7 linked regions of the Homo sapiens genome follow. The main gene of each other region encodes a partner of the protein of the gene in region 3 in a complex. Each region holds a gene or a part of one and is shown on either strand. Other genes may lie near its edges.

What was found.
Region 1: CWC22 (region 3) and BUD13 share a complex: the UniProt entries of both Homo sapiens proteins name them as parts of the minor spliceosome.
Region 2: CWC22 (region 3) and ARMC7 share a complex: the UniProt entries of both Homo sapiens proteins name them as parts of the minor spliceosome.
Region 4: CWC22 (region 3) and SNRPD1 share a complex: the UniProt entries of both Homo sapiens proteins name them as parts of the minor spliceosome.
Region 5: CWC22 (region 3) and DHX16 share a complex: the UniProt entries of both Homo sapiens proteins name them as parts of the minor spliceosome.
Region 6: CWC22 (region 3) and TNFAIP8L2-SCNM1 share a complex: the UniProt entries of both Homo sapiens proteins name them as parts of the minor spliceosome.
Region 7: CWC22 (region 3) and CRNKL1 share a complex: the UniProt entries of both Homo sapiens proteins name them as parts of the minor spliceosome.

What each region holds. Positions count from the first base shown.
Region 1 is NC_000011.10:116,752,144-116,756,504, reverse strand, and holds part of BUD13 (BUD13 homolog), read left to right. Parts: intron 1-4,361. UniProt on the Homo sapiens protein: Involved in pre-mRNA splicing as component of the activated spliceosome. As a component of the minor spliceosome, involved in the splicing of U12-type introns in pre-mRNAs.
Region 2 is NC_000017.11:75,116,182-75,120,542, forward strand, and holds part of ARMC7 (armadillo repeat-containing protein 7), read left to right. Parts: intron 1-4,361. UniProt on the Homo sapiens protein: As a component of the minor spliceosome, involved in the splicing of U12-type introns in pre-mRNAs.
Region 3 is NC_000002.12:180,000,291-180,004,651, reverse strand, and holds part of CWC22 (pre-mRNA-splicing factor CWC22 homolog), read left to right. Parts: intron 1-4,361. UniProt on the Homo sapiens protein: Required for pre-mRNA splicing as component of the spliceosome. As a component of the minor spliceosome, involved in the splicing of U12-type introns in pre-mRNAs. Promotes exon-junction complex (EJC) assembly.
Region 4 is NC_000018.10:21,631,354-21,634,568, forward strand, and holds the end of SNRPD1 (small nuclear ribonucleoprotein Sm D1), read left to right. Parts: 3' UTR 1-2,167; downstream 2,168-3,215. UniProt on the Homo sapiens protein: Plays a role in pre-mRNA splicing as a core component of the spliceosomal U1, U2, U4 and U5 small nuclear ribonucleoproteins (snRNPs), the building blocks of the spliceosome.
Region 5 is NC_000006.12:30,662,797-30,667,157, forward strand, and holds part of DHX16 (pre-mRNA-splicing factor ATP-dependent RNA helicase DHX16), read right to left. Parts: intron 4,018-4,361; exon of another isoform or gene 3,099-4,017; intron 2,938-3,098; coding exon 2,683-2,937; intron 2,479-2,682; coding exon 2,275-2,478; intron 2,197-2,274; coding exon 2,005-2,196; intron 226-2,004; coding exon 115-225; intron 1-114. UniProt on the Homo sapiens protein: Required for pre-mRNA splicing as a component of the spliceosome. Contributes to pre-mRNA splicing after spliceosome formation and prior to the first transesterification reaction.
Region 6 is NC_000001.11:151,159,649-151,164,009, forward strand, and holds part of TNFAIP8L2-SCNM1 (TNFAIP8L2-SCNM1 protein), read left to right. Parts: exon of another isoform or gene 1-1,233; coding exon of another isoform or gene 1,234-1,372; intron 1,373-2,087; coding exon of another isoform or gene 2,088-2,452; intron 2,453-4,361. Other genes in the region: LYSMD1 (lysM and putative peptidoglycan-binding domain-containing protein 1), read right to left, coding at 1,234-1,372, 2,088-2,452. UniProt on the Homo sapiens protein: As a component of the minor spliceosome, involved in the splicing of U12-type introns in pre-mRNAs. Plays a role in the regulation of primary cilia length and Hedgehog signaling.
Region 7 is NC_000020.11:20,045,581-20,049,941, reverse strand, and holds part of CRNKL1 (crooked neck-like protein 1), read left to right. Parts: intron 1-510; coding exon 511-602; intron 603-1,440; coding exon 1,441-1,599; intron 1,600-2,010; coding exon 2,011-2,177; intron 2,178-2,179; exon of another isoform or gene 2,180-2,794; intron 2,795-4,361. UniProt on the Homo sapiens protein: Involved in pre-mRNA splicing process. As a component of the minor spliceosome, involved in the splicing of U12-type introns in pre-mRNAs.

The sequences.
Region 1 (4,361 bases), on a different chromosome or scaffold from region 3:
AGCCTCGCCCTGTCGCCCAGGCTGGAGTGCAGTGGCGCAGTCTCGGCTCACTGCAACCTCTGCCTCCTGGGTTCAAGCGATTCTCCTGCCCTAGCCTCCCGAGTAGCTGGGATTACCGGCGCCCGCTGCCACACCCAGCTAATTTTTTGTATCTTTAATAGAGACGGAGTTTCACCATGTTGCCAGGCTGGTCTCAAACTCCTGACCTCAGGTGACCCGCCCACTTCAGCCTCCCAAAGTGCTGGTATTACAGGCTTACAGGATTACAGGATTACAGGTGAGCCACCATGCCCAACCACTCTTATTTTTTTTTGAGGCAGAGTCTTGCTCTGTTGCTCAGGCTGGAGTGCAGTGGTGCAATCTCCACTTCCCGGGTTCAAGCAATTCTCATGCTTCAGTGGCCTGAGTAGCTGGGATTACAGGCATGTGTCACCATATCCAGCTAATTTTTGCATTTTTAGTAGAGACGAGGTTTTGCCACATTGACCAGGCTGGTCTTGAATTCTTGGGCTCATATGATTGTCTGCCTCGATTTCCCAAAGTGCTGGGATTACACGCTTGAGCCACCGTGCCTGGCCTACGCTCTTAAAAATTACTGATGACCTCAAAAAGCTTTTGTTGATGTGGATTATATATATTGATATTTACCATATTATAAATTAAAACTCAGACATTTAAAAAGTATTTATTCATTCAAAAAAAAATAAACTAATTATGTTAACATAATTACTGTATATTTAAATGAAAAATAATTACATTTTCCAAGTGAAAAAACAGAAGGATGGCATTGATTTACATTTTTGCAAATCTCATTAATGTCTGACTTAATAATAGGTAACTTGACTCTGTATTTGTCTGTTGTGATTTGTTCAGTTGAAGTATAGAAAGAAAATTTAGCCTCACACATAGGTAGTTAGAAAGAGAAGGCATATTATATTTCTTAATGTTACACAAAAACTCAACAAGTGCTGGTTTCTTAAAGGTGAGCTATGTGGAACCTGAAACCAGATCAAAGAACTTTCCTTACTGTTATATTAATTTTTTTAATACTTTGAGTGGATCTTTTACCCATGCATGATTTTATAACATCATGCATTGGTCATTTGTAAAATATTGGTTTGCTGAGTTGTTCAGACCTTCCAAATGTTGACATATTTCCACTATACAATATCAGAAAATCACTTTTGTTAACATCACTTCCGGTCTTATCACAAAACTCTTTAAATAATGGGAAGTTAAAGAGTTCACAGTTTTTCAGAATTCTAATTTACACTTGAAAGTTTAAATGTTATCACTGGCATTTCCATTGCTTGAGCTATTTCCATTTAATAGCTTAATTTCTCTGCTGAGATTTCCCATCTGTTCATTATGAGATATTTTCCTCTTCTTGAAAATATTTGTGATATGTAATTGGTGCTTTGAAGTCCTTCCTGTCTGTTAATTGCAACATTGGATTCACCACAGGATTGGTTTCTATATTGGCAGCTTTTTCTTCAGTGTGTATTACATTTTCCTGTTTATTTACCTGTCTGGTCACTTTTTTAAATTGTTACTGGACATCATGAATGATATACTGTAGAGACTTTGAGTTCTGTTACACTGTATTGTCAGTTGTTTTCCTTCAGGTAAAGCTCACTTTGTACAATAGCTTTTTATAGATTCCATCAGATTTTGTACCTAGAGGGTCTTCCATCTTTGCATACAGTTTAATTTCTTACTTTACAATCTAGATGCTTTTTGTTTCTTTTCCTTGCCCTGTTGCATTAGCTAGCACTTCAGTGCAGATGTTGAATAGAAGTAGTGAGAGCAGACATCTTTGCTTTGTTCCTAATCTCAGGAAGAAAACATTTAGTTTTTACAACACATTTATTAAATGTGTTGTAGCTGTATAGGTTTTTTGTAGATATCCTTTATGGAGTTAAAGTTCCCTTCTATTCCTGTTTTGCTGAGAGTTTTGTTTTCAGGAATGTATGTTGGATTTTGTTCAAAATATTTTCTAATTATCCTTTTGGTTTATTCTTTGCTCCATGGGTTATTTAGGAGTGCATTAATTCCAAATATTTGGACTTTTCTAGATATCTTACTGCTATTTACTTATAATTTAATTCCATTTTGGTCAGATAATATACTGTAATATTTTGATCTTTTGAAATTTGTTGGCCAGGCACAGTGGCTCATGCCTGTAATCCCAACATTTTGGGAGCCCAAGGCAGACGGATTGCTTGAGCCTAGGAGTTTGAGACCAGCCTGGGCAACATGGCAAAACCCTGTCTCTACAAAAAAATACAAAAATTAGTCGGGCATGGTGGCACACGCCTATAGTCCCAGCTACTGTGGAGGCTGAGGTGGGAGGATCACTGAGCCCAGGGAGGTCGAGGCTGCAATGTGCTGTGATTGCACCACTGCACTCCAGCCTGGATGACAGAGTGAGACCATGTATCAAAAAACAATAATAAAAATGAAATTTGTTAAGGTGTGTTTTATGGCCCAGTGGATAGTCTATCTTCTGAATGTTTCCTTTGCACTTGAAGAGAACGTATATTCTGTAGCTATATAAGGTAGTGTTTTATAAAAGTCAGTGAGGTCAAGGTGTTTAGATCTTAGATCGCCTGTATTCTGGGTTTTTTGTGTTTGTATTTTTCTATCAGTTACTATCAATTGTGGATTTTTTGTTTTAGCTGGTTTATTTTGTTTTTCAACTCTAAAATTTCCATTTAATAGCTTACATTTCTCTGCTGAGATTTCCCATCTGTTCATTATGAGACATTTTCCTCTTCTTGAAAATATTTATGATATGTAATTAGTGCTTTGAAGTCCTGTCTGCTAATTGCAACATTGGATTCACCACAGGATTGGTTTCTATTGACAGCTTTTTCTTCAGTGTGTATTACATTTTCCTGTTTATTTACCTGTCTGGTCACTTTTTAAAATTGTTACTACGCATCATGAATGATACACTGTAGAGACTTTGAGTTCTGTTACACTGTATTCCTCTTAAGTGTGTTAGTTTTTATTCTAGCAGGTAGTTAACATAGCTGAACTCCAAACTGTCTCCTTTGCAGTGGACGGCAGCTACAATCTTTGCTCAGTTCTTTTAGTTTCTAGCTGCCATTTTTTTAATTGGCCTGATGGTATTTTCTCTGCACATGTGTCATTTAACAGTTAGCCAAGGATTTGACTAGGGTTTGTATGTAGATTTTGAGGTTCATCTCTTTTGTAGTTCCTTCTCTTCCAAGATTTCCCCCCTAATTTCCTAGCTGTTCTGCCCACTTTGCACTAATTCCTCAAGCCAGTAAGCCTGTGGCTTTCTGCCTTCATGAGCCATGCTGTTTGGGAAGTTGCCCTCCAGCAAATCTCTTTTCACATATAGACTTCATCCAGTTCATACTTACTTTTGGTCACTCTTCCACACCTTCAAATACCTATTTTTTTTGTTTTGTCTAGGTTTTATAGTTGCTAACTGAGGATAGGTTAGTCTGTTCGGGTTACTCTGCAATGTCTAGAATCTGTCTCCCCACCTTATATGGGCCTAAGGCGTTGTCTTCTGTCCCTCGGGGTGCCGTCAAAATCCAACAGCCAGGTGTGGTGGCGTGTGTCTGTAGTACCAGCTATTTGGGAGGCTGAGGCAGGAAGATCGCTTGAACCCAGGAGTTTAAGTCCAGGCTAGGCAACATAGTGAGACCCCAACTCCAGAATAAAAAAATTTAAGGCTCTTCTTTCTGATATTGGCAGATATCTATAAGTTGACTGTAGTTCCTCATCTTGGCAGATATCTTTAGGGTAGCTGTGGTTACAGGCTAGCTTACTAGTTCCGTTTGCAGTTCACTGTATGTAGGCTTTTTGGTAGAAGGAGGATTTTTCAGAACACTCATTTGCCATACATACAGCCAGAAGTAGATCTTTTTATAGCACAACCCTACAGATGTTCCCTGCTACCGAGTTTTTGTTTTTTGTTTTTTAATTTTTGGACCCAAAACTTAGAATTCTCCCTGACCTAGTTTTTTTTTACTAGTATTTAATTTGTCTTCATTTTTCTCAGTTGCTTTTTTCCACTTCTTGTTCTGATTTTATCCTAGATTTCTTCTCTTATTTCCCTTTGTCACCCTTGCTTTCTTTTTGTTATTCATCTTTCATCATCTTTTCTAGTTTTGTCTCTTTTCGGCCTGCTGCAAGGGAATATTTCCGGAACAGATATATAGTATCTGTTGGAAAAACCCATAAGATAATTACCCAGCCTCTCTTAATTGAAAGAGAAACGGGGCCGGGTGCGGTGGCTCATGCCTATAATCTCAGCACTTTGGGAGGCCGAGGCGGGCAGATCACGAGGTCAGGAGATTGAGACCATCCTGGCTAACATGGTG
Region 2 (4,361 bases), on a different chromosome or scaffold from region 3:
TAGCTCACACTTGGGGAGCACCCACTGCATGCCAGGCGCTTGCATCTTGTGCATTGGACATAGTACTAAAGTAGATGTGCTTACACCGCCTTCTTTCCAATCAGGACTCTGAGGCTTAGAGAGGTTCTGTGGGCTGGCCAAAGGTTTAAAGAGTACCAGACCTAGGCCGGGCATGGTGGCTGACGCTTGTAATCCCAGCACTTTGGGAGGCCGAAGTGGGCAGATCACCGGAGGTCGGGAGTTCGAGACCAGCCTGACCAACATGGAGAAACCCCATCTCTACTAAAAATACAATTAGCTGGGTGCGGTGGCACGCGCCTGTAATCCCAGCTACTCAGGAGGCTGAGGCAGGAGAATCGCTTGAACCGAGGAGGTGGAGGTTGAGGTGAGCCAAGATCACGCCATTGCACTCCAGCCTGGGCAACAAGAGTGAAACTCCGTCTCAAAATAAATAAAGAGTACCAGACCTGAGACTTAAACCCAGAGCAGTCAGAGTCTACAAGCTAGTCCCTTGGCCCTTTTCCTGCCCTTAGAGGAGTTCCAATTCCTAGGATTGTGGAGCGAAAGCGAGAAAGGAGTTTACTCCAAATTGCTCATTTTATCAATAAGGAAGCTGCGGTGCAGACAGCTGCCCCTCGTCTGGCTGTCGCAGGCCAGGATGAGAATGCAGGCTTCCTTCCGTCTGTCCCTGCAGCCACCACACTCACAGGTACCCTTCCATGCTGGCTTTGCTGTGGCAGCTCTGAGTGAGGTCTGCTCTTTGGCCCAGCACTTCTGCCTCCTCTCTGAGGGCTGGAAGCTGGATGCTATCCAAACAAATGGATTCGCTCACCCTGCACACTAAGGCCAATTACTGACAAAAATCGCAGTGAGAAAGTGAGGCTTTGTTTTTGTTTTTGGTTTTGGTTTTTTTGAGACAGATTCTCACTCCGTTGCCCAGGTTGGAGTGCAATGGTGCAATCTCGTCTCACTGCAACCTCCGCCTACCTGGTTCAAGCAATTCTCCTGCCTCAGCCTCCTGAGTAGCTGGGATTACAAGCACCCGCCACCACACCCAGCTAATTTTTGTATGTTTAGTAGAGACGGGGTTTCGACATGTTGGCCAGGCTGATCTCGAACTCCTCACCTCAGGTGATCCGCCCGCCTCGGCCTCCCAAAGTGCTGGGATTACAGGCGTGAGCCACTGTGCCCAGCCAAAAGTGAGGCCTTTATTGTGGGGCGACAAGCAAGAAGAATCCGGCAGCTCATGCTTAAGACCCAAATTCCCAGATGGCTTATGGTTAAGGGTGTTCAAAGGCAGGAGGCAGAGGTTACAGACAAAGTTTTAAATCAACACCAGGAGGCTATATATTGGTTTGGCCTAAGAAGGCAGGATGTCTCCAAGGGATGGGGCACAGATCATAGGTGGCTTCAAAGATTTTCTGATTTGTGAGTGGTTAAGGAGGTGAAGCTTTGTCTACAAATTTGGCATCAGCAAAAAAGAATGTTAGCTATAACCTGTGGGCATGTCCTCCAGGCCCCTCAGGGAGTCTAAAGAGTGGTCAGAGTGTAGTTTTCAGTTCCCCTTATCTGAGGTCTCAGTGCCAGGGGAATTGTTTGTTGAGGGTCCAGATTTCTGAAAAGCAACTCAAGGACAGATATTAAGATGTTATCTTTAGGCCGGGTGTGGTGGCTCACACCTGTAATCCCAGCACTTTGGGAGGCTGAGGCGGGTGGATCACTTGAGCTCAGGAGTTCAAGACCAGCCTGGCCAACATGGTGAAACCCCGTCTCTACTAAAAATACAAAATCTAGCTGGGTGTGGTGGCAGGAGCCTGTAATCCCAGCTACTCTGGAAGCTGAGGCAGGAGAATCGCTTGAACCCAGGAGGCAGGCAGAGGTTACAGTGAGCCAAGATCGTGCCACTGCACTCCAGCATGGGCGACAAAGCAAGACTGTCTCAAAAAAAAAAAAAAAACAAAGTTATCTTTAGTTTCTATGGGGAAACCAGACATCCCCTGATTCTGACTTCCTTGGCTATTGTTTTAAGCTAACTATTACCTTCTTGCTTATCGAGTTGCTCACTTGCTTCTCAGGGCTAGCTAGGTGCCTGGAATTTCATGAAGGGACTCAAGATTTTCCTTTATTTCCATGCTTGGGGGCCTGCAGGCCCCTAGAGAAGCCCCTGCTCTCTCTCCATGTCAGCCAGGGCTTCAGTCTGGCCTCAAGTGTTCCCATCAGCGGTGGCAGTGGAACTACAGTGGCAGCAACCACTTGCCAACAGGGGCCTGGCCTCACTCACCGTCGTCTCTGTGTGGCGGTCTCTTTCTCCTGTGGCTTCCTCTCAGTTGCCCGCCGTCGGCACCGCCACAGCCATGAGGAAGGATCCGGCTACAGCGACCGCGGAGAACACGCACGGGTTTTCAAGTCTCTGGCCTCTTTTGTGGCCTCTTGTGGATCTGCCCATTTAGAGCAATTGTAGAACTAGTTTATTGACCCTTTCTGTGCTTCTGGCTGCCTTTTCTGCCCAGGGTCCAGGGCTCCTGTTTGGGTGCTGTTGGGATAAAAGCTGCCTCTCCTGGATGCCCGCCCAGTGCACACCATGTGCTCGCCACACGCCCACCTGAACCAGCCTGTCCACAAGGCCTCTGAATCGGTCATGAACGGCAAGGCCGATGGTTCTAACCCCTTTGTACATATCGGGAACCCCCACCACCAAGTGAGGGCAAGTCCACTGCCTGGGGCTCCCGCTGTTAGTGATAACTGGAGCCAGGACTTCGCCCCTGTCATCCAGGATCCAAATTCTGTGCCCTGGGAACCCAGCTGGCACCAGGCTCAGACTCTAGTCCCTTGTTCTGGCCTCAAACTCCTGGGCTCAAGTGATCCTCCGACCCCAGCCTCCCAAAGTGCTAGGATTACAGGCATGAGCCACTGCACCCAGCCCCAGTGGCAGTTCCTCTATGACACTGGTACACTGGACTGTACACTGGTACACTGGTACACTGGACTGGTACACTGGACTATTCACAGGGGATTATTTGTTCTTGGGTTTTCCTTCAGTGTCTTGAAAATGGCTCCTTCAATTTCAAGTCTGAAGGACAGACAGTACATAGAGTAAGCTACCCTTTGTGTGAGAAGGCAGGGTGGAGATGAACACACCTCTGTGTATGCACTCACGCTGGCAAGACACAAAAGTGTAATAAGGAAATGGGTTAGTACGAGGCAGGGAACAAGGTAGAAGGGACCAGAATGGTGGTGAGACTTCTGAAAATACCCTGTGATACAGTTTTTTCTTTTTTTTTTTTTGAGACGGAGTTTCGCTCTGTCGCCCAGGCTGGAGTGCAGTGGCGCGATCTCGACTCACTGCAAGCTCCGCCTCCCGGGTTCACGCCATTCTCCTGCCTCAGCCTTCCCAGCAGCTGGGACTACAGGCACCCGCTACCACGCCCAGCTAATTTTTTTTGTATTTTTTTTTTTTTTTAGTAGAGACAGGGTTTCACCGTGTTAGCCAGGATGGTCTCGATTTCCTGACCTTGTGATCCGCCTGCCTCGGCCCTCTCAAAGTGCTAGGATTACAGGCGTGAGCCACCACGCCCAGCCTGCTGTGAAGACTTTGACCCTGGGCTGCTTCAGCTCAGCATGGGCGAGTCCCCAGATGTAGCTGTATTTTGAGCTGCCCTTGCCGAGGGCCTGCCCAGCCACCAGGTGCCAGGTGCCAGCTAAGCACTTGTCAGAAGCATCACCTCGTTTTGTTTTGTTTTTGAGATGGAGTCTCGCCCTGTTGACCAGGCTGGAGTGCAGTGGCATGATCTGGGCTCATTGCAACCTCCGCCTCCCAAGTTCAAGCCATTCTCCTGCCTCAGCCTCCCAAGTAGCTGGGACTACAGGTGAGTGCCACCATGCCCAGCTAATTTTTGTATTTTTAGTAGAGATGGAGTTTTGCCATGTTGGCCAGGGTGGTCTTGAACTCCTGACCTCAGGTGATCCACCCTCGGCCTCCCAAAGTGCTGGGATTACAGGCATGAGCCCCCACGCCCGGCCAGCATCACCTCATTTAATCCCTGGGACCATCCTTCAACCTTCCCTTCATGGTCCAGGTTGTCCCTCCCTGCACCAGTGCCCAACATGGCGTGTGAGCTGAGGTCACCCACCTGACCTCCCTGAGTCTCCGGCTTTCTCATCTTGCTTTCATGTGGGGTTTCCTCTTTTGCCTCTCCAGGGTTCTCGTGTAGAGTTCCTGTGTGTCCTGATGTCTGGAAGGCCCTGCCCTTGCTTCTTGTTTTCTCTCTGTCTTGTGCAGAGCATGTTCATCAGGAAGTCGGAACTTGTTCTCCTTTCTGTTTTATAACGATTTTTAAGACTGCAGTATGGTGGCTGGGCAC
Region 3 (4,361 bases):
GCACTTTGGGAGGCCAAGGCGGGCGGATCACTTGAGATAGACCAGCCTGGCCAACATGGTGAAACCCCGTCTCTACTAAAAATACAAAAAAAATCAGCAGGGTGTGGTGCTGTGCGCTTGTAGCCCCAGCTACTCGGGTGGCTGAGGCACGACAATCACTTAAACCTGGGAGGCGGAGGTTGCAGTGAGCTGAGCTCTCTCCACTGCACTCCAGCTTGGGCGATAAAGTGAGCCTCTGTCTCAAGAAAAAAAAAGAAGAAGAAGAAAAAAAGAAGTTAACTCTCCTTCCCAGTGATTGCACATTGTTGAATGACCTACAGTGGCTTGTACCTGAGACCACCCAAAAGACAACACAGTGATGCATTTTGTATTTCAGATGCCCATGCCTTAACTTGAATAATATTTTCAATTTATTGTCCACTTGTATTTAAATGGAATTTTGTACTACTCATCATATCCCTAACTTGGTCATGGTTTGTTCATGGTGCCTGGAGCTAGTCCGAGAAAGAAGTGGCTATTGGTAATACATTCATGCATCCCTCTTATAACTTTGAAGCCTCCCTTGTCGAATTTCCCTACTTTTCTGTTTATCTGAGCATGGGAGGGTGGTGGAACAATAAAGCCAGAGAGCATACTAGTTTCAGCAAACTCCCAGACTTAAACTTTTTCTCAGTATGTACATTTCCCAAGTGGACATTGGAAGAGACATTTGAATACCTACAACAAAGTACAAACTTTAAGCATGGATTATAGCTAGCCTTTATATAATAAAGTTAATAAGTCTTTCCTAGTGAACAGATACCAAAAACGGGGTATGGGCTGCCTTGGCCTTGGGACATATTAACTCCTGTGGAATGGGTTAGCTAGTGGGGAGGAGGAACTCGGTGACTCATGTTTAACCTGTCTTTCAGCCTAACTTATAAATGGGTGGAGCTAGACAGAGTTCAGCACTTCCACCTGAAAAGTTACCCTGTGAGTCCTTCCTGAAATAGTTTGTCAGGATAGCTTTATTTTAGACCTGGCTACAGGAGCCTCTGTAGTAGAATGCAGTGCTTGCATGTCTAGGGGCTAAATTTCTCTGTGGAGGCCAACACCTCCAAGTTTTCTTTAAACCAGAATGTGGTTTACTACGTGGCTCTCTAATTAAATAACCAGGTGACTTTCAAAGCTGTGCCTTGAAAATTGGCAGAATGTGTTCACCCATATACTTAATTAGGCAAGCTGAGGAACAGATTTGGGACAGGAGAGAGTGGTTTGAATGTGTGATGAAGGCATATGGCATATTCAGTAATTAGGGTTGATTTTGTAAGTTAAAAGAACTGCACCTTCAGGGACAGATTTCCTTTTGCAGTGCCTGCAAAGGAACTAGTATTTTTTTCATCTCACTCAATGAGGAAGTGTTTTCAAGCTGTTCCACAGGTTAACATGGAGTGAAGACTAATAGGGGGTGGCATCTGATAGTGTTGTCTTGATGTACTAAGACTTGGAAATCTTAGTATTTCCAAGAAGTAGGAGTTAATAGGTGAGACAACGCTGCTGTTGTATTCCTTGATGAACAAGTTGACAAAATGGCATTATAGGAAGTTCTATGTAGGCAGAAATTGGAGTAATCAGCAGAAATCTACACTCCCCGTTTTTTATTTAATTTTAGACTTGGAACTTATTAAGTAGCAGACACTGTCCTAGGTTCTGGATATGTAGCAGTGACCAAGAACCTTGAGGATCCAGTGTACTCATACAGAGCCTTTCATAGTTTAGCTTAATGAGTCTCTCATGTTCCATCTTATTCATGTTCAGTTTTTCATGTACACCTTGGAATCCCCAAATTCTCTGTCTCTGAGTCTTTACACATGCTTATCGTATTTCCTGAATGACCTTTTCCCCTTTCGATATGGATAATTCCTACTTGTTCTTTAAGACTCAGCTTCAAGACCTACTTCTTTCTGTATGTCCCAAACCCTCTTTTCCAGTAACACTTGTTTATGACATTGTTGTAGCACTTAGACATTTCTTCTTTACCCAAGGACAGAGTCCTCAATGCCTTGTCTGTTGTGTAATGTATATATCTCCCCACCGTACATAGACACTGCCTTTAGTAAAGACCATGACTGTACTTTTTCTCTTAGCTTCATACTTCCTCATTTTCTCTGTAAGCATTTTTCTTTTTTCATCTTCTTTTACTATTGTTTTGAGATGGGATCTCACTATGTTGCCCAGGCTGGGACTCTAGGCACATGCCACTGCACCCAGCTTTTCTCAGCCACTGAATATAAATATCAATTATGGCCCTAGCCTAAATGGAACCTTCCCCCAGCCTCCTATATACAGTGACAGAATGAGGGGGAAACATGGGCAGATTTGGTAGAATCAGTAGGATTTGGTGACTTACAGGGAGTAAGGAAAAGGAAATTGCCACCTGGGAAGCTTTGTAAGTCATATCTTAGAAGAAGAGCTGGTTTAAGATGGGGAGAAGGAAATAATTAGTTCCACTGTGGATTTCTTTAGTTCAGATGGCCTTTGGCACATCCACTTAGAGGTTTCCTGTAGCAAATTGGACATCATGATTTGGAACTCTAGAGAAGATTGGCTGGAGTAAAAAGTTGTTTTCGCATGTTAATTAAAGCTATGGGGATGGAGATGATCTTCCACAGATAATATGGAGAAAGAAAAGATAAGGACTATTCATTCATCCATTTAACAAATATGTATTGAGAGCCTCTAGTGTTGGGAATGTAGCAATGAACAAAACATAAATTCATGAGCAAATACTAAACTCTCAGGCATAGTAAATATTAAAGGGATGGACAAATGAAGGTGGTGTCCCTGTAAGTTGACAAGTGAGAACTTCAAGAAGGGGATTAGGTGCCAAATGCTAGAGCAATGTCCCATAAAAGAAGGAAGCTGCCCCTGGATTTAGCAACAAGAAAAAAAGTTACTGTGTAACATTGGTAAGTGCTGTGGAGTAGTGGGAAGGGAAAGCTGAATTACAGTGGGTAGGAGAGGTTAAGAATTAGAGACATCAGGCTGGACATGGTGGCTCACTCCTGGAATCCCAGCACTTTGGGAGGCCCAGGTGGGCAGATCACTTGAGGTCAGGAGTTTGAGACCAGCCTGGCCAACATGGCGAAACCCCATCTCTACTAAAAATACACAAAATTAGCTGGGCATGGTGGTGCGCACCTGTAATCCCAGCTATTCAGGAGGAGGCTGAGGCATGAGAATCACTTGAACCTGGGTGGTGGAGGCTGTGATGAGCTGAGATCATGCCACTGCGCTCCAGCCTGGGTGACAGTCAGACTCTGTCTCAAGAAAAAAAAAAAAGAAAAAAAAATTAGAGGCATCAAGTGTGAACTTACATATCACAAAATAGCTGTGTAGGGATGAGACAGTAAAACTAGAGAGGGGACAGGATAAAGGGAATTTGCCCCATAAATATCATAATTTATTTTTAAATGAATCATTAAAAAGTTCAACATGTAGAATTTTTCTTTAAAACCAACTTAAATAGAAATCAATACTGTACTGTAAATCAAGAGACAGCTTATTGAAATGTTGAAACTAACAAAAATAGACAAATTTCTATTCTCATAGATCCTGCATTCTGTTGAAAAGAAGCACATTGGGGAATCTTCCTATGCGTAAAAAAATTAATAGTATTTCCAAATGATTGGATCACTTAACTCTTTATTTGGTTACTTAAACAGCCTAAAATAGACTAGCTTCATGATACAGGAAATGAATGGGGGTAATACTACCTCCCAATTTATAATGTGAGGTTTTCAGTATAGATAATGGTGTCACTGGGTTCATTAAAATGTCTTTTTTTTTTTTCACTCCTCTGTGTCTTACTGTCTTAAAGTGTCTGAAAATTTGGGCTGTCTACTCTCCACACAGAGTTGCAGACCAGTCAAATGCTTTTATATTACTTACTTCTTACAGAAAACAATGTCCAGAACTGTCTGCACAACTTCTAGCCCTGTACTTGAACCTGGCAATCTAGTCATTCAAATGGTTATGAGTCAGCACACCTGGCATATGCAATGACTATGAAGCAAAAGGGAGGACAGCTCTGCAACTCTTTATTTGTAATTTTTGGAGCCAGAAGTGTTTTGATTTCAGTATCTTGTAGATTTTAGAAAACTGCAGTGCCTATACTACATATTAAGTAATCCCCCCTTTTGGGGTCTGGAGTAACATCCTCTAGTCAAAACACATTAATATTTCTGCACTGTATCAAGTCACATTAAGTATCAAGTCAGTATATGCTAAGTTTTGCTCTCAAGTGAGTTGCCACATGCTTAAGAATAATCTTTGTATTTTCAGAGCTTTACAGATTTTAGAACTGCAGATAAAGGATTTTC
Region 4 (3,215 bases), on a different chromosome or scaffold from region 3:
TTCTTTAATAGTAAATATATTAAAGGTGAGTTGGCTTGACAAGATACAACCAATATGTAATTTTTCTCCACACGTTTTTTTTTTTTTTTTTTTTTTTTTTCTGGAGACAGTCTTGCTCTGTTGCCCAGGCTGGAGTACAGTGGCGCGATCTTGGCTCACTGCAAGCTCTGCCTCCCGGGTTCAGGCCATTCTCCTGCCTCAGCCTCCCGAGTAGCTGGGACTACAGGTGCCTGCCACCACACCCAGCTAATTTTTTGTCTTTTTAGTAGAGACGGGGTTTCACTGTGTTAGGATGGTCTCGTTCTCCTGACCTCATGATCTGCACGAGGCCTCCCAATGTGCTGGGATTACAGGCGTGAGCCACCGTGCGTCCCCGGCCTATACCTTTCATTAATTAATAAGCTGGGGGAATAAATAACTGGATTTCATTCTTTTCCATCTTCTGACCTGTTGGTGCTCCTATTGCTTGTATCCAAGTAGAAGGCAAAAGGCAAGAGACCCCTGTAATGCAGCAAGTGGAGAGATTTGTTGAAGGGGTCAAACAAAACCCTGCAAGAGTAGGAAATAAACAGTTGGCTCCTGTCCTCGTGGAGCTTATAGACAGAAGCAGATAACAAATAAAAATTGGAGCTTAGTGCCGTGGTGCACACTTGTAGTCCCTGCTACTGGGGAGGCTAAGGCAAGAGGATCGCTATAGCCTGGGAATTTGAAGCTGTAGCGTGCTATGATTGCAAGCAGCCTGGGTAACCTAGTGAGACCTGGCTCTTAAATTTAAAATTTAAATGAAAATGGCCACTTAGCATAAGAGATCTAAAATTACGTTTTGTCCTGGCATGGTGGCTCATGCCTGTGACCTCAGCACTTTGGGAGGCCGAGATGGGCGAATCACTTGAGGTCAGGAGTTCGAGACCAGCCTGGGTAACATGGTGAAACCCTGTCTACTGAAAATACAAAAATTAGCTTGGTGTGGTGGCGGGTGCCTGTAATCTCAGTTACTCAGGAGGCTTAGGCAGGAGAATCACTTGAACCCTGGAGGCAGAGGTTGCAGTGAGCTGAGATCACACCACTGCACTTCAGCCTGAGTGACAGAGCGAGACTGTTTCAAAAAAAAAAAAAAAATTTGTTTTGAGAGTTTTTGTGTCTAGGATGTTTGCAGTGTGAAGCCAGTCTAGTAACAGTTTAAATGTAATAATAAATCACAGTGGGTACTAGATTGAGTTTATTCCACTAGAGGTCATTATTTCATTTCCATGTGAAAGGGCTAAAATTGGGTGAAGAAAAAGCTATTTGAACTGATTACCATCATTTGCTATAAAGGAAGCATTATAGTATGAATAGAAAACAGACTAGAGTTTAACATGCTTCTCTTGACCCCTCTTCACCACCCCCTAAAAGGCAGATGGGATCTTAGGACTGCAGCATTTTGTACACATCTGATATTTAATGAGATGTTACATATGAACTTTAGTTTTTTTTCTTTTCTTTTCTTTTCTTTTCTTTTCTTTTTTTTTTTTTGAGACAGAGTCTAGCTCTGTCACCCAGGCTGGAGTGCAGTGGTGCAATCTCGGCTCACTGCAAACTCTGCCTCCCGGGTTCACGCCATTCTCCTGCCTCAGCCTCCTGAGTAGCTGAGACTACAGGTGCCCACCACTATGCCCGGCTAATGTTTTGTACTTTTAGTAGAGACGGGGTTTCACTGTGTTAGCCAGGATGGTCTGAATCTCCTGACCTCGTGATTCGCCCGCCTCGGCCTCCCAAAGTGCTGGGATTACAGGCGTGAGCCACCGCGTCCGGCCGAACATTAGTTTTTAAAGAAATGTATTATGAATATAGATAGAAAACCCAAAGTGAAGGAATAGAAAATGAAATATCAGTTTCTTTTAATCTATCATAATTATGTGAGCATAACTTAGTATTTTGAAATAGATTAATGTAGTCAGCAAACAATTCATGTATTACCTATAATAGATATCATACATATAACATTTAATAACATACAGTTCTTGTTCCTGAAGACTTAACCTAGAAAATAACTCCATAACAAGAAGAATCTCTGTCATAATAAACCAACAGCAGACATTTTCTAAAGGCATTAAAAGTATATCTGATACTGGCCTTTATTAATGTGAAATTCTTGTGGATCTGTGAAATAAAGAGGAGTACTTTCTTTTCGTTTTTTTTTCTTTTCTTTTTTTTTGAGACAGTCTCACTCCTTCATCAAGGCTGGAGTACAGTGGTGCGATCTTGGCTCACTGCAACCTCTGTGTCCCGGGTTCAAGCAATTCTCGTGCCTCAGCCTCCCGAGTAGCTGGGATTACAGGCATGCACCACCACACCCAGCTAATCTTTGTATTTTTAGTAGAGACAGGGTTTCACCATTTTGGCCAGGCTGGTCTCTAATGCCAGACCTCAAGCGATCTGCCTGCCTCAGGCTTCCAAAGTGCTGAGATTACAGGTGTGAGCCACTGCGCCCAGCCAATAGGAGTACTTTTGAAAAGGAAGATAAATTTTTTTTTTTTGAGACGTAGTCTTGCTCTGTCACCCAGGCTGGAGTGTAGTGGTGCAATCTCAGTCCACTGCAAGCTCCACCTCCCGGGTTCATGCCATTCTCCTGCCTCAGCCTCCCGAGTAGCTGGGACTACAGGCACCCACCACCACGCCTGGCTAATTTTTTGTAGTTTTAGTAGAGACGGGGTTTCACCGTGTTAGCCAGGATGGTCTCGATCTCCTGACCTCGTGATCCGTCTGCCTCAGCCTCCCAAAGTGCTGGGATTACAGGCGTGAGCCACCACACCCGGCTGATAAACTTTGTAATACTAAGTTCTTTCTGTGTGGGAACATAGTAGTGTTCTCTATCTGAACCAGCTTTTCTTCTCAGTGAAGTTTTAGGGTTTTGTTTACGTATTCCATATATTTTGAGAAATGTTAATATACAGTGAGATTCAGTTTATGAAGAAAATAGTAATAATAGCAAGGCTGTAGATACCCAGTGCAGTCAATTCTTGGAATTTTCAGTAGTTGTGTAAAGTTGCTGTTAATACTAAACCACTACTTCTAGGGAAAATATAGGGTTAAGTTCCTGCAAGCCTCTAGTCACATTTTCATCAACCAACCAATACATAACCTTGTTTTATGAGTGTTTCTGTTTAGAGACATATATAGTAGTATATGTAATACATATATACTACTGATTTGTTAATTCATGGCTAGCAGCA
Region 5 (4,361 bases), on a different chromosome or scaffold from region 3:
CTTGGGGAAAGGTGAAGTGGGGCAGCACCAAGACTTCTGCTGTAGGGACCTGAGGGAACTGTAGACTGAGTCACAGACCCCAGACTCTACCCCCCGGTTCCCTAGAAATCTCACCTCATTCCCAAGCTTCACACCCATCTCCCGGGCCACTCGGGCGGCCACACTCATGGCAGCCACTCTCCGGGGTTGGGTGCAGGCAATCTTCATACCCTTGTTTGTATAACCCTGAATGACAAAGAAAAAAGAAGAAGTTTGCCCTTTACTAAATATGCACCCTGGGACCAGGTACATTTCAGAGAAAGAAGTTGTAAAAACCAGGCAGGAGAAAAGGAGGAAAAGACAGATGCTGAAAACCAGAAAAGAAGGGCAAATAGATAGGATGACAGACCTAGGGCCCTCAAAGGGGGTCCTCACCCAGCTCTGGGTAATTAAGTTCATGACTCTGCTAGACTTGAGCTGGAAAAGAACAGATTAGCTGAGACAGAGCCAGCTAAGGTAAAAAAGCAGGAAGGCTGGGCACAGTGGCTCATGCCTGTAATCCTAGTACTTTGGGAGGCTGAGGTGGGAGGATGGCTTGAGCTCAGGAGTTCGAGACCAGCCTGGGCAACATAGTGTGACAAAAAAATTAAAAATTCAAAATTTTGACCAGGCACAGTGGCTCACACCTGCAATTCCAGCACTTTGGGAGGCCGAGGCAGACGGATCTCCTGAGGTTGGGAGTTCGAGACCAGCCTGGCCAAAATGGTGAAACCCCGTCTACTAAAAATACAAAAAATTAGCCGAGCATGGTGGTGCATGCCTGTATTTCCAGCTACTTGGGAGGCTGAGGCAGGAGAGTCGCTTGAACCTGGGAGACAGAGGTTGCAGTAAGCCAAGATCATGCCACCGCACTCCAGCCTGGGCAACAGAGCAAGACTCTGTCTCAAAAAAAAAAAAAAAAAAATTTCAGGCCAGGCACAGTGGCTAACACCTGTAACTCCAGCACTTTGGGAGGCTGAGGTGGGCAGATCACGAGGTCAGGAGATTGAGACCATCCTGGCCAACATGGTGAAACCCCATCTCTACTAAAAATACAAAAATTAGCTGGGTGTGGTGGTACGCACCTGTAGTCCCAGCTACTTAGGAGGCTGAGGCAGGAGAATCACTTGAACCCAGGAGGTGGAGGTTGCAGTGAGTCAAGATCGCGCCACTGCACTCCAGCCTGGTGACAGAGCAAGACTCCACCTCAAAAAAAAACAAAAAATGTTTAATATGGGCATGGTGGTGTGCACCTCCCAGATACTCAGGAGGCTGAGGTGGGATGATCTCTTGAGCCCAGGAGTCCCAGGTTGCAGTGAGTCATGATGGTGCCACATCACTCCAGCTTGGGCATCAGAGCAAGAGCCTGTCTCCAAAATAAGGCAGGGGCTAGGCACAGTGGCTCACACCTGTAATCCCAGCACTTTGGGAGGCTGAGGTGGCTGGATCACTTGAGGTCAGGAGTTCGAGAGCAGCCTGGCCAACATGGTGAAACCCCATCTCTACTAAAAAATTAGCCAGGTGTGGTGGCGCATGCCTGTAATTCCAGCTACTCTGAAGGCTGACGCAGGAGAATTCCTTGAACCCAGGAGTCAGAGGTTGCAGTAAGCCAAGATCGCACCACTGCACTCCAGCCTGGGTGACAGAGCAAGACTCCGTCTCCAAAAAAAAAAAAAAAAAACTAACAAAAAGGCAGGAAAATAGTCCTTTAACTCCTTGTTTTTTGGCCACGTTGGAGCATAGGGAGGTCCACATTTATACACGCCCCACTCCACCTATCCATCTACCCGTCCTTCCAAATGAAATGAATGCAGGAAGTGAGAACAGAAATGTGAAAAGGGTATGGTCTTTACTCTCAAGAATTTCACAATTTAGTGGAAAAGATAGGTAAGTGACTACTAAAAATATAATGTAAAAGGAGCTCTGACAGGAATGAGGACATTGATGCCAGGTGCCCTGGCAAGCTGAAGGGTGAGATGACTGTACCTCCTCAAAGAGATACTGCGGGATCTGGGTGGTCTTCCCTGAGCCTGTCTCGCCTTCAATGATGAGGACTTGGTGATTTGCAATAGCAGCCAGGAGCTCCTCTCGAAATGGGAACACCGGGAGGCTGCGGCGGACGGCCTGGATGGACTCTTTCTGCTGGGCCTGAGTTGAAGTGGGTGGAGCTGACGGCTCCTAAGGAAAGAGAAGGAGGTGTGAGCTAAATAGCTCGCTACGGGTCTTCCTCAGAAAGTCTCCCAGCTCCCCTCTTACCTCATCACCCTGGAGCTGAGTGGCCCGGACAAACTCAATGGTCTCCTCCTCCTCCAGCACCAGTTGATACTTGGGCTCCTGAGAGGCAGCATCTCGGGCCCCAAACTTCAGGGACGCTGCCCCAAGCCGCGCCTCCTCCCAGCGCCGCTGCTCCTCCCCAGGGGCTCCTGATTCCTCCTCCACTAGATCCACAGCTCGGGCTGGCTACAGAGAGAGGGGATATGTGAAGACTCAAAAACAGGATGTCCTCTCTGCCCTCTCCCCTCTTCCCATTACTACCCCCGCCCACTGCCCATTGGGAACGGCAAGGCAAGAAAGGGGATGACCCACGTGTTGCCCAATCCCCTGAAGCCTTCCCCACAACTTGTCTTGGGGACCAAGGCTGAAGCAGACGCCGCTTCACCTCACCTGTCCTCGGGTTTCCTTGGGCATGTGGTAGCGATTGGTGGCCTCCAGCTTCTCCTGCTCCCCAGCTGCCCGGTACTCCCGGGCGAGATCCCGCACTCGCCGCTTATATTTGAGCTCCTGCCGCTCGTGCCGGCTCAGCTCCACGTCCCCAAAAAGGAACTCCTCATCAGCCAGCTCCGCCTCCAGGTCCTCAAGCTTCTCTCGCTCCCGCTTAGCCAGGTACTCTCGGCGAGATTTCTTCCGCAGCTCAGGGACCTGAGTTGGGAAAGGACAGTCGAATCCTCATCTTGCTGGAGGAGCAACCCCTTTCTCTACCAATCCCTACAAGGGAAAAATCCCCTGACAGGCAGGCATGAGAACCTCAGGATGCACCCTCTACCTTCCCTCTGCAATGCACAACCAAAACAATGACATACTCAAATCTGGGCCTCTTTGGATGCTACATGCTGACCCCACATCGTATCTTCCTGCAGCAGAATCCAGCTGGAAAGTCCTCTTAGGCAGCATTATCATCTTTGTTAATATAGATGCACTAGGGAGATGTCTGCGTAGCTTATATTTTACTCTTGCCATTTTATTCAAATTAGTGGAAAGGGGGAAAATAAAAGGCTAATCCAGCATTTAGAAGCACAGGACTCAAACCGAAAACAATTCAGACAAAGATAGAAACCAGTGAGGGGGCCAACAGGAGGCAATCTTCAGCCCCAGTTAGATGTTCTTTGGTCTTAAACGGAATGACTGTAGTTTGAGGAAGGGAGAAAAACTGATTATAAAAAGTTAGGACTACAGCATCAGAGTGTTTCTGTAAGGCAAATGTAATCAGGGATGTTTGGCTTTCTGGTACTAACCTCTCTTCACCATGCTGTGTCTCACTTAGTTTCTACACATTTACCTTTGATACAAACTTTTCAGGACACATTATGGATGACAGCAGAAAACTGGCAATATCTATAAGGCCCTTTCCTGCCAGGAGTCCTCCCACTATGACATCATCCTCTCTGTGATCACAACTTCCTCTACTGCAAGGTCAAAGCCCCTCTGGTGGCTGGGTGGGCGTGGTGACTCACACCTGTAATCCCAGCACTTTGAAAGGCTGAGGTGGGTGGATCACCTAAGGTCAGGAGTTAGAGACCAGCCTGGCCAACATGGTGAAATCCCGTCTCTACTGAAAATACAAAAATTAGCTGGGCATGGTAGTGGGCACCTGTAATCCCAGCTACTCGGGAGGCTGAGGCAGGAGAATCATTTGAACCCGGGAGACGGAGGTTGCAGTGAGCTTAGCTCACGCCATTGCACTCCAGCCTGAGCAACAAGAACAAAACTGCATCTTTAAAAAAAAAGCCCCTCTGCTGTTCTACCCTTAAGGGGCCTGGTTCTATTTAGTTGTTTGGCTTTTCTTGTTTGTTCTGTAAAGACTTAAAATGCAGTTTATGATCATGACCTAATCTGGGTACCACAGTCAAATATTCCTTCCATGGAAGAGCCAGATAGATTTTTTTTTTAATATGGGCAAAAAATCAGAGCCATTTGAGCATTAAAAAGAATAATGATGTGAGATTATAAAATACTGAAAAATAAAAATTCATGAGTCCAATTTGACACACACAAACAAAAAACAAGGGAAAAAAATCTGTCACCAGTGAAATGACTGTTACAGCAAACGCCTTACTCTAAAAATT
Region 6 (4,361 bases), on a different chromosome or scaffold from region 3:
ACAGAGCTTGGACAGATGCCAGAGGCTCTGTTCCAGAGTGCAGGAAGAAGGGGCTAGGGCAGGGGAGATTCTCATAGGGGAAATAAAACTACTAAAATATGCACAGGGCTCAATGTTTAATCTGTCCAGCTTCGTATACCTTATAATCATCACAGAAGAAAGGAGGTATATAAACATTACTTATCTCACCTCTCATCATTTCCAAACAGGAGACTGAGGCAGATTTCCATTATTACTGAGGTTCCCTTACCTACTTCTGTTTAAGAAACAAAACAACTGTACCATAGATCAGTGCTACAAATCGCAAATAAATATGCAGTGAGGAGGAAGGCATAGAGAGAGAGGGTCTGGAGGGGAGGGGGTGTAACAAAGAGACTCCCACAACTGGCTTCCTCTTCAAACCCCAAGGAAAGCCTTCTTCCATCTGTTCCCCTCACCACAGGCTGAGCAGAACAGGTCAGAAGGGTGAACTGGTAGAATGGAGAGTTCAGGTCCCTACAGTGCTGCTTTTTCTCAGAGTCAAGAATTGTGAAAAAGTTACAGGGAATTGGTTTGTCAAGACTGAGCCCATTCAACAGGAATGGGGTACCAAAAAAAAAAAAAAAAAGAATCAGCCCAAATCTGTCACTTTGAGATTGGAGAAAAGGCCAACAGTCATCCATTCTCTGTGGTGGGCTATATCACCGATTGCCTCATCCTCAATAACATGTTTGGCTAACAAGGTGGGGAAAGTGGAGAACCAGCAGTCACTGGCTCACTGTTCCCGGGTTCTCCTCACCCCAGGGCTATAGAAATTCCATTTTTCAGCTAAGAGTGGGAAGAAATAAAATATAGCAAATAAATATTACTTCAATATTAGCACCAAATAAATTATGTCACATAGTTGGAGATGAGGAAGAAGCTGAGGGGGAGTCTCTGCTTCCCTGTTCTAAGGCCAGGGAAAGGTAAAAAGGATAGGAAAGGCAACAAGGATATAAAAAGAGCCTTTTGAGTCTAAAGGACTCAACTCTAGATTCAGCCCAAGAACTGGGAAAGGTCCAGTTCCCATTCCCTAATCTTGCCAATAAAACTGCCCCAGGCCAAGGAATTTTTGGCAGACAAGGAGGCTGGGGAGGATGGCTGGAGTGGAGGGAGGCAGGCTCATAAGCCATGTTCTTGAGCCTCACCTCAGGCTCCTCTCCCCCTGAAGTTTCTCTTTCAACATCTTGCTTCTCTCAGTCAGTTCTGGGGACATCAGAGTTTGAAGATTTCATCCTCCTGGTCCCGTAGTGTCCGGGTCCGAGAGGTACGGGTCAGCGGCACAGGACCTAGGACTGCTCGTTGCTGCATCCAAGGGGAGCTCAGGTGGAGACCTGCATCCTCCCCAGGTACCCTGCAATTGAGGAAAGGGGGGAAAGAGTGACAGATCAAGGGAAGAACCTGACAATGGGCCAAGTGAGAGGTACATGGAAAGCTATCTTCTAATACATAAGCTGGTTGCTTCAAGACAGTCTCAGTACCCTCTAGATAAATCCTAACCCTAATGCTCCTTCATGGATGATCAGAGCAGTAAAAACAGTTAACTGTCAGCTGGCCGCTGTGGCTCACGCCTGTAATTCCAGCACTTTGGGAGGCCGAGGCTGGCGGATCACGAGGTCAGGAGATTGAGATCATCCTGGCTAACATGGTGAAACCCCGCCTCTACTAAAAATACAAAATATTAGCCGGGCGTGGTGGCGGGCGCCTGTAGTCCCAGCTACTCGGGAGGCTGAGGCAGGAGAATGGCGTGAACCTGGGAGGCGGAGCTTGCAGTGAGCCAAGATCGCGCCACTGCACTCCAGCCTGGGCAACAGAGCAAGACCCCGTCTCAAAAAAAAAAAAAAATAGTTAACTGTCTGACTCCAATAAGAACACAGAACCCAGTTTTCCACTGCCTCTACCCAGGCCAGCAGCCATCACCTCTGCTCATTATCTTGGGGCCACATGGGGGAAAGGTATCACCTTGCCTCTGTTGGCACTGTCCTTACTTACTTGTGTTTGTGGTTAGGTAAGACAGGAATGATGGAGGAGTCTAGGGAGGAACTTATAAGGAACCATTCAAGACTCACCCATTTTCCCCTTTTTTCAGCTTCTGAGCAGCAGCCTTCTTGGACAGGCTGATCTGTGAATCAAGCTTCTTAAGGAAATCAGAGGCAGAGAGGTCATGGATGGGCGTGGGGGTTTCCTGGCCAGGTGTGGGGAGGACTTCACCATTGGCACGTCCTGCTCCTGTCTCTTGTTTCTTCCTCTCAGTTGAGTGTGGCCAAACTTCACTGTTACTTGGGTGTACTTTTTCCTCTCCATCTTTCTCTTCCTCAGAGTCCAAACCATTGAACAGGTCTCTGGGCTCTGTCAGGATGGGGATGTAGAGGGTTTTCTTCAGGAAGATGGAGTCATTAGTATAAAGGCGGTTTGCACGTTTAATCTGTTCCATCTTAAAAAAAAAAGTCACCAAAATTAAGGACAGTAATAATGATCAATCTTACATCTTGAGCTTTTTAAAGTGACTGTACAGAGTCTTCTTTGATTCCATAACAACCAAGCTAAAGTACAAAGGGCTGACATTATTTCTATTCTATAGATGAGTGGTTTTCACACTTTTTGGTCTTAGGGCCCCCTTACATTTTAAAAAATTATTGTGCAAGCCAGGCGCAATGTCTGATGCCTATAATTCCAGCTACTCAGGAGGCTGAGGAGGGAGGATAGCTTGAGCCCGGGAATTAGAGTCCAGCCTGAGTAATATAGTGAGACGCCATTTCTAAAAATTAAAAAATTAAAAATAAATGAATAAATAAATTAATGAATAAATAAAAATGAAGGAACTGAGGCTCAGAGAGGTTAAGCTACTTTCCTAAAATTATCTATCAAGTTAATGACAGAGCTAGAATGACAATCCTGGGTCTTTTCACTGCTTCTGAGAATGCTTTTCACACTATACTATTAACAATGTCATTAATAAATATTTATTTTGACCTATTTATTCATCACTGGACATAGTGACTGGCATCACCATCTATCTGCCTGGCCTCCCAAGGTAGAAACATCAATGTCATCCTTAACTAATACTTGCCTTTCATCACCATACCAAGTGGTCAACAAAACTGCTTCAAAAATCTCTCTCACATCTGGTCTCACCTTCCTACTGCCAAAGATTTAAAATAGACCCTCAGTATTTCTCATCTGGGGTTATTGCAACAGTTTAACTGGCCTTCCTCGCTCTATTTCTACTCATCCTCCTCTTGGCATCTATCTTTCTAAAAAAATAAATCTGATTAACCCACTACCCACCTATGGCTCCGCACTGGCTAAAAGATAAAAACCAAATTAGCATTCAAGGGCTTTCTCAATCCAGCTCCCAAAGGAAATGTCTAGATTAATCTCCCTCTGCCACCTCTACATTTTGCTATCCTGAACTTTTTATTTTTCTTTGAACATTCCATGATCTTTTTCACACTTTATTCATGCTGTTACTTCTGCCTGAAATGCTCCCACCCCCCTACTATCCCATTCTCTGCTTGGAAAACTTGTATTCATCAACTATCACTCCCTTTGTGCTACCTTCTTCAGGGCTCCCAATGCATACTGTAAATATTGCTATAATAATACATAACCCTACTATAATATTATTCACCTCTTTAAATATCTGCTTTGCCTAAACCCTATAAGTCCTTTAAGGGCAAGGATTGTGACTTGCTGTCTCTGTATCCCCAGGAAGTCATTAGCATCCTACAGACCTTGACACATAGCAGGGGCTCATTAATGCTTTATTTAAAAACTATTACTTATAATTATGTAATTATTATCATAATTAGATAATGAAATATAGAAACTACAGATATAGTGTATTCGTATTTTCTTTCTTTCTTTCTTTCTTTTTTTGGAGACAAGGTCTCACTCTGTCGCCCAGCCTGGAGTGTAGTGGCGCGATCTCGGCTCACTGAAACCTCCGCTTCCCCAGCTCAAGTGATCCTCTGCCTCAGCCTCCCCAGTAGGTGGGATTACAGGCACATGCCACCATGCCCGGCTAATTTTTGTATTTGTTGTAGAGATGGGGTTTCACCACATTGCCCAGAATGGTCCTGTACTCCCGAGCTCAAGCAATCCACCCACCTCAGCCTCCCAAAGTGCTGGGATTACAGGCATGAGCCACCACGCCTGGCCCACCACAGCCCCTTTCCAACTGAAATTTAATCTTTTCTGATTTCCTATCTTTGTGTGTGTGTGTGTGTGTGTGTGTGTGTGTGTGTCTCACTCTGTTGCCCAGGCTGGAGTGCTGGAGTGCAGTGGTGCGATCTCAGCTCATCGCAACCTCCCCCTCCTGGGTTCAAGCGATTCTCCCGCCT
Region 7 (4,361 bases), on a different chromosome or scaffold from region 3:
GGAGGCTGAGACATGAGAATCACAGCAACTCGGGAGGCAGAGGCTGCAGTGAGCCGAGATCGTGCCACTGCACTCCAGCCTGGGCGACAGAGCAAGACTTTGTCTCAAAAAAAAAAAAAGAAAGAAAGAAAGAAAGGAAAAGGAATTGAGGTCTGCAAAAGGACCATGAGAAGACTTTGGGATCTGATTTGACCTCTTCACTCTAGAATGTGGGACTGTTTTAAAGCACTAATGCTGTTATATATGAAATTCTGAGAATTACCAGAGGACTTAAAGGTAATAGTCAAAAACATTTTTTATTAGGGACAAGCATAGACCATTTTAAAGTATCAGTTAGTTGACTGTAACCTTCTGTAGTGGGTTTCTTATTCCTCAAGGATTCCAGGATGTAATTTCTCTTAAATATGAACAAAATGAATAACCATTTTAGTACAAGACTTAAAATAGACCAAGGGTGCTGTCATTTTTAGTCATTTGTCTTTTGACTTGACCCTTTTTGCCTTCTTCCAGACTTTTGAAGATAATATAAGAAAAAACAGGACTGTGATTAGTAACTGGATAAAATACGCACAATGGGAAGAAAGCCTAAAGGAGATTCAAAGGTAAAATTACTGAGAGTGTAGTTTTGTATATAATGATTCATAGATTAACAGATACCAAAAAGAAAAGAAGAAAAAGTTAAAGCACAGGTAAAAGATTGTGCCTCGGGTAGAAATTTTCAACTTTGGTTCCATGGAACCCTAGGGTTCCCTTGAGGGCCTCAGGAGTACTGGGGTAGAATAGTCCTGGGGAGGGTGGCAGAAGAGGCTTTAGAGATAGATCTTGTCAGTTGTAGCTAAAGAAGCACAATTTCATTTGCTTTGTATATATTGAGATTTTTACAAATTTCAGCTAAACAATGGCCAAAAAAAATAAAACCAATGGCCAAAAAAAATAAAAATTGCAATCTGGCCCTTCCTGTGGTCTAGCTTTCTGCATTCTCCCCGCATACCTCCTTCCCCCACTGTGCCTGTGTATGTGCCACTCCCTGAATATATCATGTCTCCTTATCGTGAGGCTTGACTGTTCTCCTTGCCTGGAATGAGCACCCCCTCCTCACCAAACTTAGTTTCCTGGTAAATCGGAACGTTCCTCAAGTTCTCATTTCTACAATTACCTACTACTTAGCCTTTTCCACCAAACATTTTCATTTCTTCCTCTCTGTTTCCCGTGCAGATCTTGACTATAACATAAATCACATTGCATTATAATTGCATGCATGTCTTTTTATAAGACTTTGTAAGGTACTTGAGAGCATTATATCTTTTCATTTTTTTATGCCCAGAACTTGGCTCATGGTAGACACCTAATAAAACATCAGTGCATTCCAGATAGTTTGAAATAACTGCTACATGTGTTGAATGCTCTATTTTTGATGCCCTGCAAATCTTGCTTCTTAAGGGCTCGATCCATATACGAGCGTGCTTTAGATGTAGACTACCGAAATATTACACTCTGGCTGAAATACGCAGAAATGGAAATGAAGAATCGCCAAGTCAACCATGCTCGAAATATCTGGGACCGGGCCATAACAACGCTGCCTCGAGTTAATCAGTTCTGGTAAGTTTCTGATCTAACAAAACAGCCTTTTATAGACTAGCAAAGTTCCACATCTTCTGTATTTATTTTATTTACATGATGATAGTTTAATTTGATATCCTACTTTTTCTTCAGACATAAATGCTGTTATGTCCCATAGTCTATTAAGTCATAATCGTAATGTTCTATAGCTATGTAATCAAAACTAAAATTTTGATTGCAATCTTTTATTCATAAGCTTCTTGTTGAACTAGGCAACTTTTAAGAAAAAAAAATCTTTTTTTCCAATGGTTCATCCTTTTTCAGATTTACATACAAATGACAAAACATGTTTGATTTAACCTTTAAGAAAGGTAAAATCTTCAATCTTCTTCCCATTCAACAATGGAAGAACTAAACCACAGCAGATATTTTCGGGTGATTTTGTTACAGGTACAAGTACACGTACATGGAGGAAATGTTGGGAAACGTTGCCGGTGCCCGGCAGGTGTTTGAGCGCTGGATGGAGTGGCAGCCTGAGGAGCAAGCCTGGCACTCCTACATCAACTTTGAGCTGAGATACAAAGAGGTGGATCGGGCCCGCACCATTTATGAGCGATATATCCTTTGGACGAGATCTGTATGGTGCCATGATTGTCCTGGATGCTGCTGCTGCTCCTGTAGAGATGTCTCATGATCAGGACACACAGTCATTAATGTCAGGCTCAAAGTCAAGAATGCCAGTTTATCAGCTTCCCTATGTTTTGTAGGGAAAGAGATTGGTCAGAATGAAAATTTGTATTCTGGGTAACTAGTCTTTTCTAGTGAGAGTTTGGGTTTATTTTATTGTAATGCTAAAAGCTAATGTTTCCTTGTGGAAAATGATATTCCTGGGGGATTGTTTCCAGGAACTCAAGGGGATACCAAAATCGGTGATGCTTAAGTCCCTCATATAAAATGATGTAGTATTTGCATGTAACCTATGCATAGCCTCCCATATAATTCAAATAATCTCTAGATTACTTATACCTAATGCAATGTAAATGTTATATAAATAATTGTTATTCTGTATATTTTAAGGAATAATAAGCAAAAAAACGACATGTTCAATACAGAAGCACTTTTTTCTCACGAATACTTTATCTCAGGTTGGTTGAATCCACAGATATGGAACCCATGGCTGGAGGACTAACTGTACTAAGGTCCTGGCTGCCATTGCCAGTCCTGTTTTTCTAAGGTTTGTGTTGGTCATTACTACCTTACTGGAGTTCATCCAAGGTTTACTGTTTACTAGCTGTGTGGCTCCAGAGAGTCATTTAACTCCTTTGAGAGTTGGTGTCCTCTTCTTAAAAACAAGAATAAAAACACCTTTGTTGGGCTGTTGCGAAGATTAAATGATACACATGAAAGCACTTTTAGAAACTGAAGTACAGTCATTCCTCACTATTTGCAGATTCCATGTTTGCAAAATCACGTATTTGCTAAAATTTATTTGTAACCCCCAAAATCAGTAATTGTGGCACTTTCACAGTCATTTGTGGACATGCACAGAGCATGAAGTCCAACAAGGTGAGGCTTGCCTTCTGGTCTTAACCTCATATAACCATGCCTAGAGCTTGGAGACAGGAAGGGCCAGTGCCATGTAGTGCAAGGAGCTGTGGCTCTGGGGCCAGTCGGGGAGTTTGAATCCCTGTCAGTGGGGCAGCCTCAGTCCAGTCACTTAACATTTCTGAACCACTTTTCTTACAAAATAATGAAGATAGAATCTGCCAGGATGAGTTCTTTTTAGGATTTAAGATGATGATGAATGTGAGATTGTATATATACACGTTTCTCCTAGGAGCAGTGGTTCAGTACTCAATAATTAAGTGTTCGCATTGACTAAATAGAACATAACTACCAGAAATAATGAGAGTCAACTTTATTATGCAGTATTAAGATCTTTTTATTTTTTTACTCTTCTCTGTTGAGGTGACAATGTTAAGATCTTAATTATGTCTACTAATTTTAATATTATTAGTTTGACGAAAGCTTTTATAGCACTTGCTACGTGCCAGGCAGTATTCTAAGTACTTTACAGATATTGTTGTTTAATCCTCATAACATCCTTGCAGTGTAGGAACTTCTCTGTCCTACAGATGAGGGAGCTGAGGCATGAGAGATTAAGTAGCTTGACTGGGTTCTCACAGGTGCTGATGGAAATAGAATGTGAACCTAGTAGAGCAGCTTCAGAACTGATGCTCTTCTTTGCCATATTGGAATATATTACTACTTTGGAAATTAATGATTTATTCAAGGAAGATAGATTAAAATGACAATTCAAAACTTTCTGCTTTGACTCTAGTTAACAGTTTTCTTTTTATAGCATGTTTTTTTCTTAATTATTAGTTCAAGTATTCATATTTTAATATAATTGGTGCTATTTAATGACCAGACCATTATTGACCGCTTACGGTGCCATGTTCTTTTGGCTAGAAACTGTGCTAAGGGCTTTACATACATTTTCTCATTTAAAGCTGGCAGTAATCCAGTGAGGCTGGCATTATTTTTCCCTGTTTACAAATGAAACAGCTGAGACTTAGACGTCTAAGTTCAGTGACTTATCCAAGATCACATGGTTGGTAACCTGGGTTGAGATTTTTCTTTGCTTCCAACTCGAGTTTATACCCACCACTAAAATCTTAACTAAGCACTGGAGGAAAATAGAGATGAACAGGCGTGGCCCTGCTCTCACAGAAGCCACTGTTTAATTCTACACTTTTGTATGTGTTTTGTTCCCCTAGAGTTGTAGTTTGAATTTTTGG